Linked DNA regions of Homo sapiens. The protein of the gene in region 1 interacts with the protein of each later gene in a pairwise test. Each region holds a gene or a part of one and is shown on either strand. Other genes may lie near its edges.

Region 1 (3,652 bases):
CTGAGGCAAAGTCTCAATACTTTCTCCCCCTCCTCTCTGAAAAGAGAATAAAATGAAGGCTTGGCACACACACCATCTCCGAGACAGTGCTAGCTCCTGCCTCCTAGGAACTGATTCCAAGGTGAACTGCTGGTGGTGGAAGAAGCCCTTCAATATAGCATGTATTGATTGCACTTGATGTACAAAAGAGGACATAGATGCTGAGGGACATAAAGATGAACAGAGACCTTGTCTCCAGAGTTCACAATCCAACGGAGGAGGGAGACTTGACATCAGTATTCTAGTAGGAAGGCAACCTGTGAACCAGGCACATTTAGTTTCAACCTCAGCTCTGCCATTTACTCTTAAAATTTCCAAACCTCTGTGTCTTCACCTGAAAAACAGGCTTAATAATATTTGCGTATATAGGTGATTGTGAAGACTAGAAATGGGGTATAAAAAGCGCTTTGACTGGGTGTAGTGGCTCATGCCTGAAATCCCAGCACTTTGGAAGGTCCAGATGTGAGGATCACTTGAGGCCAGCAGTTCAAGGCCAGCCTGGGCAACATATGCAGACCTCTGTCTCTACCGAAAAAAAAAAAAAAAGTTTTGGCCGGGCATGGTGCCTCAGGCCTGTAATCCCAGCACTTTGGGAGGCCGAGGTGGGCGGATCGCCTGAGGACAGGAGTTCGAGGCCAGCCTGGCCAACATGGTGAAACCCTGTCTCTACTAAAAATACAAAAATTAGCTGAATGTGATGGTGGGTGCCTGTAATCCCAGCTACTTAGGATGCTGAGGCAGGGGAATCACTTGAACCCAGGAGGTGGAGGTTGTAGTGAGCTGAGATCATGCCACTGCACTCCAACCTGGGTGACAGAGTAAGACTCCGTCTCAAAATAAAATAAAATAAAATAAAATAAAATAAAATAAAATAAAATAAAATAAAATAAATAAAATAATAAAATAAAATAAAATAAAATAAAAAACAGTTTTAATTAAATAAACCACCTCCTACAGTGACCGGCATATGGTAAGTGTGCAATAGTAACTAGTGACTTTTTAATCATTTACACTGCTTGTGACAAATGCTATAATAGAATTACCCCAAGGAGATTTTATTTTCACCAGATTTCAGATTTCAACCCCTTTATTCTAATATCATGGATTTGTTCAACAAACCCACATTTCCCCTGCACACCATTATGACCACTATCCCTTCTAAGCCTTGCCCTCTCCATGTCATGGACCATTTTTCATGACCCTTCTTTGAGCCCTCTCCTCTCCCAGAGCAGACACGCTTAGGTGATAGGCACACTGCAGCCAGGACACTGAGTCTTTGATGGAAACCATGATAAATTGGCAGCTTCTGCCCTGGGGTGGCAGACTAAGTCCCTGCAAACCCTGCAAACTGTCTAGCATTGTGGGAAGCACTTGGGCTTTGGAATCTGATGGAGATGGATTTGAACTCCAAGCTCTTGTTCAGTGTGGGTCTTTTGGCAAGTTACTGAATCCCTTGAGCCTCAGTCTCCCTGTCTGTAGAAAGAGGACACCAATACCTAATGAAGTGGCTAAGAGTATAACTGCATGGGTTTGAATTCCAGTTCTGCCAGCTGTGACCTTGGGTGAGAAATATCTCAGGGCTGCAGGAGTTTTCATTTGTAAAATGGGTATATGAGTAGTTGTTATGGTGGTTAAGCAAATGATATGTAAAGTACTTTAGCTCAGTGCTTGGCACATAGTATATAAGTTTTAGTTATTACTGAACTGAACAGTGTGTGTAGAGAACTCAGCCAGGATGGGGTGAGGACAAGCAGAGAGGTGGGGAGCAGTCCTCTGGCCCAGTTTTGGTTGGGGTGCAGAAAGACACACTGCCACTCTACTCTATCCCAGGTGCTGTCCCACAACCTGTACACGGTCCTGCACATCCCCCATGACCCCGTGGCCCTGGAGGAACACTTCCGAGATGATGATGACGGCCCTGTGTCCAGCCAGGGATACATGCCCTACCTCAACAAGTACATCCTGGACAAGGTGGGGCCCAGCTTGTAGGGAGCATCTGTAACCTCTCCCCACTTTTCCAGCCTGGCCAGCAGCCTAATACCTTGCCACTCCAACTCTTCGCCCCTGCCATAAACTCCTACTTCTGCCTGCTCTGTCCGTGACTGCTGTCCCATCACGTCCCTCACATCCCAGCCACCTGCCCCCTTCCTGTCCCCCTCAATTCACCTTCAATGTCCCTCATCTCTAATGAGGTGGGCCCCACCCTACCCATAACCTTCCACCGAATCCCTGCCCGGCCCTCCTCCAGCTTCCAGGGTTCTCCACCCTTCCCAGACTGTCCCCCTGAACTCCCCCTCCAACTCCTCCAATCTGTCACTGTGTTTCCAGGTTCTTGGCTCTTAGCTTCCTGCTGGGTTTCTCCTTCTTTGTCCTCTGGGCTGAAAGACTAGAGTTAATCTGTTGTCAGGGGGCCTGGGTGGGTGTGGGTGTGTTGTGGAGGGTGGAGTGGTTGGAACCAGCTAGTTACCTGGTAATCAGCTCAGGGATCCCTTGAGTTAGGGCCCTGGACTTGGCCAGGTGGGGAGCAGGGGCATAGATGAACCCAAGAAACCCAGCTGGAGCCTAGTGTCGTGGTAGAGCTGAGATATGCAGTCAGCTGATTTGCAGCCCTGGTGGCAGGTGGAGGAGGGGGCTTTTGTTAAAGAGCACTTTGATGAGCTGTGCTGGACGCTGACGGCCAAGAAGAACTATCGGGCAGATAGCAACGGGAACAGTATGCTCTCCAATCAGGATGCCTTCCGCCTCTGGTGCCTCTTCAACTTCCTGTCTGAGGACAAGTACCCTCTGATCATGGTTCCTGATGAGGTGAGGGTGATGGCAGCCCCAGGGACTGAATCACTTGGGACCAGACCTAAGCAAAACCATGAATGAGACCAAACCACCTTTGGTGCCTTCCCATATCCCCTTTCTTTCTTTACCATCTTCCCATGCTGGTATCTGTCCTCACCCAGCTGTCTCCAGATGCCTAGAACTGCCTGTGTCAGAGTAATTTTGCCTTCTTCCAGGAAAACTGAAATTACACTTTCATGAGGGTTCTGCTGGTCCTCACTGTAGGAAAATGATCTGCAAATTCTGTTTACACAGAGGTCTAAATGCCAGATACATTACTGAGCATTACTGGCAATCTAGGAAGGGTGCTTTTTTTTCCTTTACCTTTTGCCACTTCTTCCAGGACAGGAAGGATGCTTTACAAGGCAAGGGGAGACCTTTCTGAGACAGGAGGTTACTCTGGTTCCAGATTTTCCCTTTCTGCCTTTCTTCTGGAAAGCCAGGACAAACTCAGCTAAGAGACCCAGGGATAGGGCATCCTGGGAGAAAAGGCTGGGAATCTGGTCCCTATCTCCTTACTCCTGGGTGAAGCCAGGGAAGGCATTTTCCCATCCACCTGTACCCTCCCTCTTATCCTCACTTCCCTCCCCTGCCCATTTGGCCTTGTGACCCTTTAGTCCTCTTGGTGGCTGTGGAGATGCCAGGGTGACTTTAGGTCTTTAGAGTGGGGTTTACAGGAGAGGGGGCTTCTGTACTTACAAGAAGCCCTAGCATGTCAAGCTCCACTCACATTTGTCCTGGCTTCTGTTTGTGGGAAGGGTGATGAAGGGAACCACCCGAGCCC
Region 2 (3,652 bases), on another chromosome or scaffold:
CACGGTGGCCTCCCTGCTGAAGCTGTACCTGCGGGAGCTCCCCGAGCCCGTGGTCCCCTTCGCCAGGTACGAGGACTTCCTCAGCTGCGCCCAGCTGCTCACCAAGGACGAGGGGGAGGTCAGTGGCTCCTGGGGATAGCTCCTGGGAGATGGGCTGGCTGGGTGGCAGCCTGTAGACTCAGGACACAGACTCTGACTTTTCATGAATTTTCATGGCACATGGATCCTGTGGAGGCCTGCTGTGTTGGGGGTGTGGTGGGGGCCTGGAGCATCCTGCTTGGGTGGGGGAGGGGCCAGGGCATCCTGCTCAGGTCGGGGAGGGCTGGGGAATCCTGCTGTCTGGAGCCATACCTGTCTGCGGCCTTGGTCCCTGGGAGGGGTGGGTCCGGTGTGCCCAGCTCTGGCTGTCACACCAGTAGGTGCTCACACTCCCCACACCCGACTCAGGCCACTCAGGCCCGTCACAGGCTCAGAAACCAGGACATCTTTTATTTATATCTTGCTTCCTTCCCAAAAGAATTTGAGCTGGCTCCCAGGACAGATGAGCCAGCCCTCCCGTCCCCACCCGTGCAGGTGCTGGTCTGCAGCCCCAGGTGGCTCAGGGCCAGGGAAGGACTGTTTGCCTTCCCTGCGGCCATGTGGGAGATGAGGGCTCACTATCTGGCAAATATTTGTGTCTTGATAAGTGAGCTGAGTGCTGGCCCTGACATTCCTCCACGGGCCCTGTAGAGGCTCACCCCTCACACCAGCTCCTTGGAAGCAAGTTAGCTTCCCAGGAGGTCACAGCTGGGCCCTGGCCACTCCTTGAGGGGAGGTGGAGGTGGTGGAGCCCTCTGGTCTGTTGGGGCTGGGCTGCCGTAGCCCCCACCTCCCTTCTCTTTGCCCACCCCTCCTCGCAGTCAGAGAACAGTCAGGGCCCTCATTGCCGGTGTTTGAAATTCTGTTCTTCATTCCTAAGGGCACTCTGGAGTTGGCTAAACAAGTGAGCAACCTTCCTCAGGCAAATTACAACCTGCTCAGATACATCTGCAAGTAAGCGGCTTGGCAGGAGGGAACCACACTTTCCTGCACTGGCTCCACGCTCCCCCAACCCCACAGCGAGACACGCAACTCTTCCTTGTCAGAGGGGGGCCCGGGTCATTCCCCACCCTGCACAGCCTCAACCCAGCGTGGACGAAGCAGGGAGTGGAAAAGCACAGACCCTGAGTTCACGAAGCTTACAGTCCCATGGGAGCAGCTGGTTTTAAACAGACCTGGGTAGATAATTCCAGAAGGGACATACCCTCTGTCCCTCCTGGGTGCCTCTTGCCATCCTGTCCCCCCGGCATCTGCCCCTTGACCCCAACCCTTCATGTATCCCCATCCTAGACACTGAGAAGGGGAATGCAGGGGCGGCGCTGACTGGGGTCTGGGACTTCCCAGAATTTGTGCCCACTACAATTTGCAGAGTCTTGTCCTCCTTTCACACAAATAGCGGTGGGCCCTTGTCCCAGTGACTTTTACTTCTGATGGCCCTCTTGGGCCCCAGGGGAAGCCTTCCCTCATCGAGCCTGGCAGAGGCAGGCTACACCCAGTGGGCAAAAGCCCACAGGCAGCAGGGCTCAGCAGGGGTGTGGCGGTGCGTCCAGGCCGCACACAGGAGACTGGGCATCACAACTTGCTTCTTTGATGACTGCTGCTTCCTTACTTTGCAGGTTTCTGGATGAAGTTCAGGCATACTCAAATGTCAACAAGATGAGTGTCCAGAATCTGGCAACCGTTTTTGGACCTAACATTCTGCGGCCACAGGTAGAGGACCCAGTAACCATCATGGAAGGTAAGTGGGAGGTGTACCTGGTGGCCCTGGGTGCTGCCGGGGTCTGGGCTCATCTTGGTCCACGGCAAGTCCTTGGAACCATCCCAGCCCAGGGCCAGGCCAGCAGGAGGGGTGGCTCAGGTGGCACATCTCCATCTCTGGGGACTTGGCAGGAACTTCTGCAGACCTCACCCCCGACCCCCATGAGGTTCAGCTATAAGATAAAAAAGGAACTTTGCCCTGCGATGGGCAGCAGCAGGTCACTGGGTGCAATTAGAATAGCCAGGGGTTTCTGTGGATGGAAGAGGCTGGAGGGATGGGAGAGGTCAGCACTTTTGCCCTTGAACACAGACATGTTTGCTTTTCTTTTACAATTAAGCAATTGTCATAGGTTCCTGGATGTCAGCTTTGCAAACCCTGGAGAATTTCTCTATGATAAATAACAATAAGTGATTAAAAATAGCAGCAACAGCAGCCGCTTTCAGTAAGCTTCTACCAAGTGCTTTGTTTGTATCATCTCATTTCAGGCTTTACAACCAGCCTGTGCTGTGGTAATCGCCCCCACTTTACAGATGAGGAAACTGAGGCCAAGAGAGGCGAGGGGACTCACCAGAGGCCAGTCAGCCAGACTTAGCAAAGGGCACAGGTGTAGGCTGCCATAGAAAAGACAGCCCACCTCATAGGGCCCATGGAACACTGTCCCCAGTGGAGTATGCATGAGAGACGTGCTGCTCAGACAGGAAGCCCACAGCTGAGGCTGTTCTTGCCCTTATCCCATGTTGAGGGACGTGGCGGAGTGCTTTTGCTCAAGTCCGCACTTTGGTCAGCCCTGGCTGGGTCTCCCACCCCAGGGCCCCTTGAGGCCAGGAAAACACAAGCTCCTACCTGCCTGGTGGTACAGATGCTTGAGGGAGGAGGCCTGCCCTGCCTGCTTCATGGAGTTCCTGCTTCACCTAGGTTCTTGGCCTCAGAATTCCTTCCTTGACTTCTTCCAGGATTCCTAGTCAACTTCAGTGGGAGAGTCCACCCTGGCACTCAGCCCTCCCTCCTACCGGGGGACCTCCTAGCGTCGGGCCTTTGTGGTGAGGGTGGCAGGAGGGAATGAGGCAGCTGGATAGATGCCCTGGTCCTTCCTGCACTGCCCACCTCCGCTGCAGGCCCCCACCCCACCACCGTAGGAACTGAGTCCCCAGGACTGGGGGCTGCATCTCAGGGGCCTTGGCCTAGACACGGGGGATTGTGTGTGTGCGAGATTATATGTATGTGGGATTCTGGGGGGTGAGCAGGGTGCACTATGTGTGCAGTTGTGTATGGGGGAATTTGGGGAGGCTGCGGAGGGTGCATTGTGTGTGCAATTGTGTGTGGCGGATTTTGGGCAGTGGGTGGGGTTCATTGTGCGATTCTGTATGGGGGGATTTGGGGAGGCTGGGTAGGGGATTTGTGTGTTCACTTGTGTGTGTGTAGGGGCTTTGGGGAAACTGGGTAGAGTGCATTGTGTGTGTAATTTTATGTGTGTGGGATTTTCGGGAGTGGGCATTGTATGTGCGATTGTGTGTTGGGGGATTTGGGGAGGCTGGGTGGGTGCATTGTCCAGTTGTGTGTGTGTGTGGGACTTTGGGGGTGGATGGGGTGCATTGTACGTGTGATTGTGGGGGGTATTTTAGGGGGTGGGCGGGGTGCATTGTGTGTGCAATTGTATGTGTGTGCCCCCACACAGGAAAGATGGCTCTATTCCCTGTCCCAGAGCCCTATGCTCCCAGAGTGTGGACATTCAGGCATGGCAGTTGTCAGCAGCACAGAGGGGTGACGTGGGGCAGCCGAGAGAGTTCTGGCATCTCAGGTCCCAGGTTCCAGTTC
Region 3 (3,652 bases), on another chromosome or scaffold:
TTACAGGAAATACAGGGGACAAAGGAACATGTTTTAAAAAACTGCATGGAGGTACAATGAAAATTCAGACTGAAAAAAACAACAACAACCCAGTTTCTTCAAGAAATGTATTACAAGGAAGAAAAAGAGAGAAAGAGAGAACCCAGACCTATAGACATATCAACTAAATGCAACTTATTTGGCTCTTGATACAAACAAACTGCAAAAAAGAAAGTTATGAGGTAAATGGGGACATTTGAACACTGACTGAATAATTGATTATATTAGAGAACTAACGTCAAGTTGTTTAATGTGTGTGGTATTGTTTTCTTTATAAAAAGTCACTACCTTTTAGAGACATATACTAAAATATTTACAGATGAAATACATGGGATTTGCTTGAAAATAATCCTGGGGGGAGTGGGGAGCGCGTGAAGGTATAAACAAAACAAGGTTGGCTGTAAGTTGATGATGTTGGAGCCAGGGAAGGGGTGGCACAGATCATACTGGCTGGGCACAGTGGCTTAAGCCTATAGTCCCAGCACTTTGGGAGGCCAAGGTGGGAAGATCACTTCAGCCCAGCAGTTTGAGACCAGCCTGGGCAACATAGGGAGACTCCATCTCTACAAAAAATTTTTAAAATTAGCCAGGCATGGAGATACACATCTGTGGTCCCAGCTACTCAGGAAGCTGAGGCAGGAGGATCGTTTGAACCCAGGAGGTCAAGGATGCAGTGAGTTGTGATCAAACCACTGCCTTCCAGCCTGGGTGACAGAGTGACCCTGTCTAAAAACACACACACAAACAAAAAGAATTAAGAATCATACTGCTATTTCTTCTTTTTGTATATTTTGATTTTTTCCACAATAAAAAGATGTTAGTTTTTTTTTCAAAGGTGGGTGAGGATTTAAGGAGGAAGAATAGATTAGATTAGAGCTATGCAGTGTCATTTTTAAAAAAGTATTCACATTAGCCAAAAAACATAGAAGAAGCAACAGAGGCAGATGTGGATGGTGTCACCCACGCCCTTCCCCAGCAAAGGGCCCAGTGCAAGGGCCTTTTTGGGTTACAGAGGCCACCATCCCTGAGGAGAAGGATGCCTGTGGCCATCTTGCCCTGGGCCCATTAGCACCTTCTCTAGTCAGGGCACTGCACTGAAGCTGAAGATAAAATGATGAATAAAATATAGGGACTAAAGTCAAGTGATGTGAAAAGAGAAGTAAGCAGGCCATTACAATGGAATCGGACTTGTGCTATGTTATTACAGAGTGGGACCAAAGTGTGCTGTGAGAGCACAGGTAATGGTGATCTGACTGGAAAAGGTGGCAGCCACGCTGTCCTGGACGATTCCCAGAACTGCCTTCTCATTATCATCCAATTCCCAGGCTCTGTTGCTCTAGGAAGAGGATGTACTCCTGTACAGGCCAGAAGATGTAAGCATCCTGACCTCCTGGCAGCTTGGCTTCTCATTGTAAATGCAGAAAACGGACTTCTGAGAATAATTGGATTTCCCATATGGCTTACTTAGAGGAAGAATACATTAGCCAAAGGACGTGAGTGTCCACTTCTCTGATGTGACAGATCTTATTGTCAAATTAATAAACTGTCTTTCTGGCTTTTAGAGTCTCTGAGAGTCTGGTACCTGTGTATCTGTTGCTGAAAGATACATTAATTTTTGATGTGCTAACAAGTCAGTATTCTGAGATTGCAAGACCAGCCTGAGCCCTGGAGGATGTACCGGGGTAATGTCATCCCTTGGGACATGGCTAGTAGATACTAGCCTCCTCCAGGGACCCCTTTCTGCTCTGTGTGCTTCTTTGATCCTCTGCATTTCTCAAGGGTGGACCCATGTCTGATGCTTCTTTGATATCTGAGTTATCTTCTCTCACCATGTGTGCTACAAAGCATTTTGGTTCTTAACAAATTTGTTTCTTGATTTCTTTCACTCGAATTCAACCTAATCAAAATAGCTAAAATAACATCTATTTGGGGGCAAGTCAGATGGAAACTGTCCATGGAGTATTTTTAAACTGAAACACGAATACTTAAAAAAAATTCATCTGCTGCCTTTGAAAGATCACAACCTTTTGAATAACCATGTTAACTTCATCATCTGCTTTGGCTGTGACGGCCAGTGTTCCTCAAATAAGCCAATCAACTGAGAACCTTTCTCCAACCTATACTTCTAATTAAAGAACAAGAAACCAAACACTGTGAACTCCTTTCCAAATGAAAACGATTTCTTTCATCTCCAGTGGTTTCACTGTCAATCACTTAGATAGGTTCTTTCATCTATAACAAAAGATGGCAAACTTTTTCTGTAAAGGTCCACATAGTAAATATTTCAGGCTCTGTGGGCCCACAGTCTCCATTGCAGCTACTCAACTCTGCCACTGCAGCGGGAAAGCAGCTGTAGACAATATGTAACCAAATGAGCATGGCTATGTTCCAATAAAACTTTGTTTATAGACACTGAAATTTGAATTTCATCTAAATTTCATGGGTCACAAAATACTGATCTTCTTTTGATTTATTTCCAACCATTCAGGAATGTGAAAACCATTCTTAGCCCACGAGACATACGGGCAAGCTGTCAGATCTGGCCCACAGGCCATAGCTTGTCAATGCCTGTCCCATCATGATGAATGCCAGCAATGAGTCGCTATACTACATGAATGTGTATGGTCCCTGTCCCTTCATAATACTCCTTTACCAACCCTGAGAACTAGGACTTATAAGTGGATCTGAAGTTCACAGTTGGCAAATTTAAAATCTTACGGGAAAAATATTTTCATTAAAATTAAACAATGGGCCGGGTGTGGTGGCTCACACCTGTATTCCCAGCACTTTGGGAGGCCAAGGCGAGCGGATCAGCTGAGGTCAGGAGTCCAAGACCAGCCTGGCCAACATGGTGAAACCCTGTCTCTATAAAAATACAAAAATTAGGCAGGCATGGTGGTGTGTGCCTGTAATCCCAGCTACTCGGGAGGCTGAGACACGAGAATTACTTGAAACCAGGAGGGGGAGGTTGCAGTGAGTCAAGATCACACCGTTGCACTCCAGCCTGGGTGACAGAGTGAGACTCCATCTCAAAAAACAAAAACAAAAACAAAAAAACTTAAACAATGGTCAGCACACTTAAAAAAAAAAAAGAAAGGACATTTTACCTATCTTAAGTCCCAAATAGTGGGAACTATGTAATTTGTTCCTAGTTGCCATCCCCTCAGAAAAAAATGGTAAGATCCCTGAGATAGTGGTGAGCTTGTTTTACTCTAACAATACATCTGCTGAGACTTTTTTCAATGTTGGTTTATCCATCCAAATGTTCAATGTCCTGTCTTTCTGGTTTTAAGATTAGTATTTGTAGACCCTCATCTCCTCAGTCCCACCATAGTCCAAGATGGTGGATGATTGATACATAAAAAGCTATAGATTTTGTTTCTTTAATCTAATCTACATATCTACAACACTTGCAACACCCTTCCCCACTTGCAAATATTGTCCTGTCTATGATAGCTTTCTAGGCATTCCTAACAAACACTTTAAGGCTCTATTTTCCTTGTGTTTTGTTTCACTTCAAATTTCATTGTATACTTCTTTACTACTGCAGACTTTCTCTTTTAACTCTCTTTTTATTTCCAGTCCCAGGGTTTCTCTTTTTTTCACCATCCAC

The links.
Region 2: the proteins of DEF6 (region 1) and ARHGAP22 interact in a two-hybrid assay, tested with the Homo sapiens proteins (one large-scale study listed by BioGRID and IntAct).
Region 3: the proteins of DEF6 (region 1) and RAPGEF4 interact in a two-hybrid assay, tested with the Homo sapiens proteins (one large-scale study listed by BioGRID and IntAct).

What each region holds. Positions count from the first base shown.
Region 1 is NC_000006.12:35,307,801-35,311,452, forward strand, and holds part of DEF6 (differentially expressed in FDCP 6 homolog), read left to right. Parts: intron 1-1,869; coding exon 1,870-2,010; intron 2,011-2,658; coding exon 2,659-2,844; intron 2,845-3,652.
Region 2 is NC_000010.11:48,451,468-48,455,119, reverse strand, and holds part of ARHGAP22 (rho GTPase-activating protein 22), read left to right. Parts: coding exon 1-118; intron 119-958; coding exon 959-1,032; intron 1,033-1,694; coding exon 1,695-1,816; intron 1,817-3,512; coding exon of another isoform or gene 3,513-3,652.
Region 3 is NC_000002.12:172,738,808-172,742,459, reverse strand, and holds part of RAPGEF4 (rap guanine nucleotide exchange factor 4), read right to left. Parts: intron 1-3,652.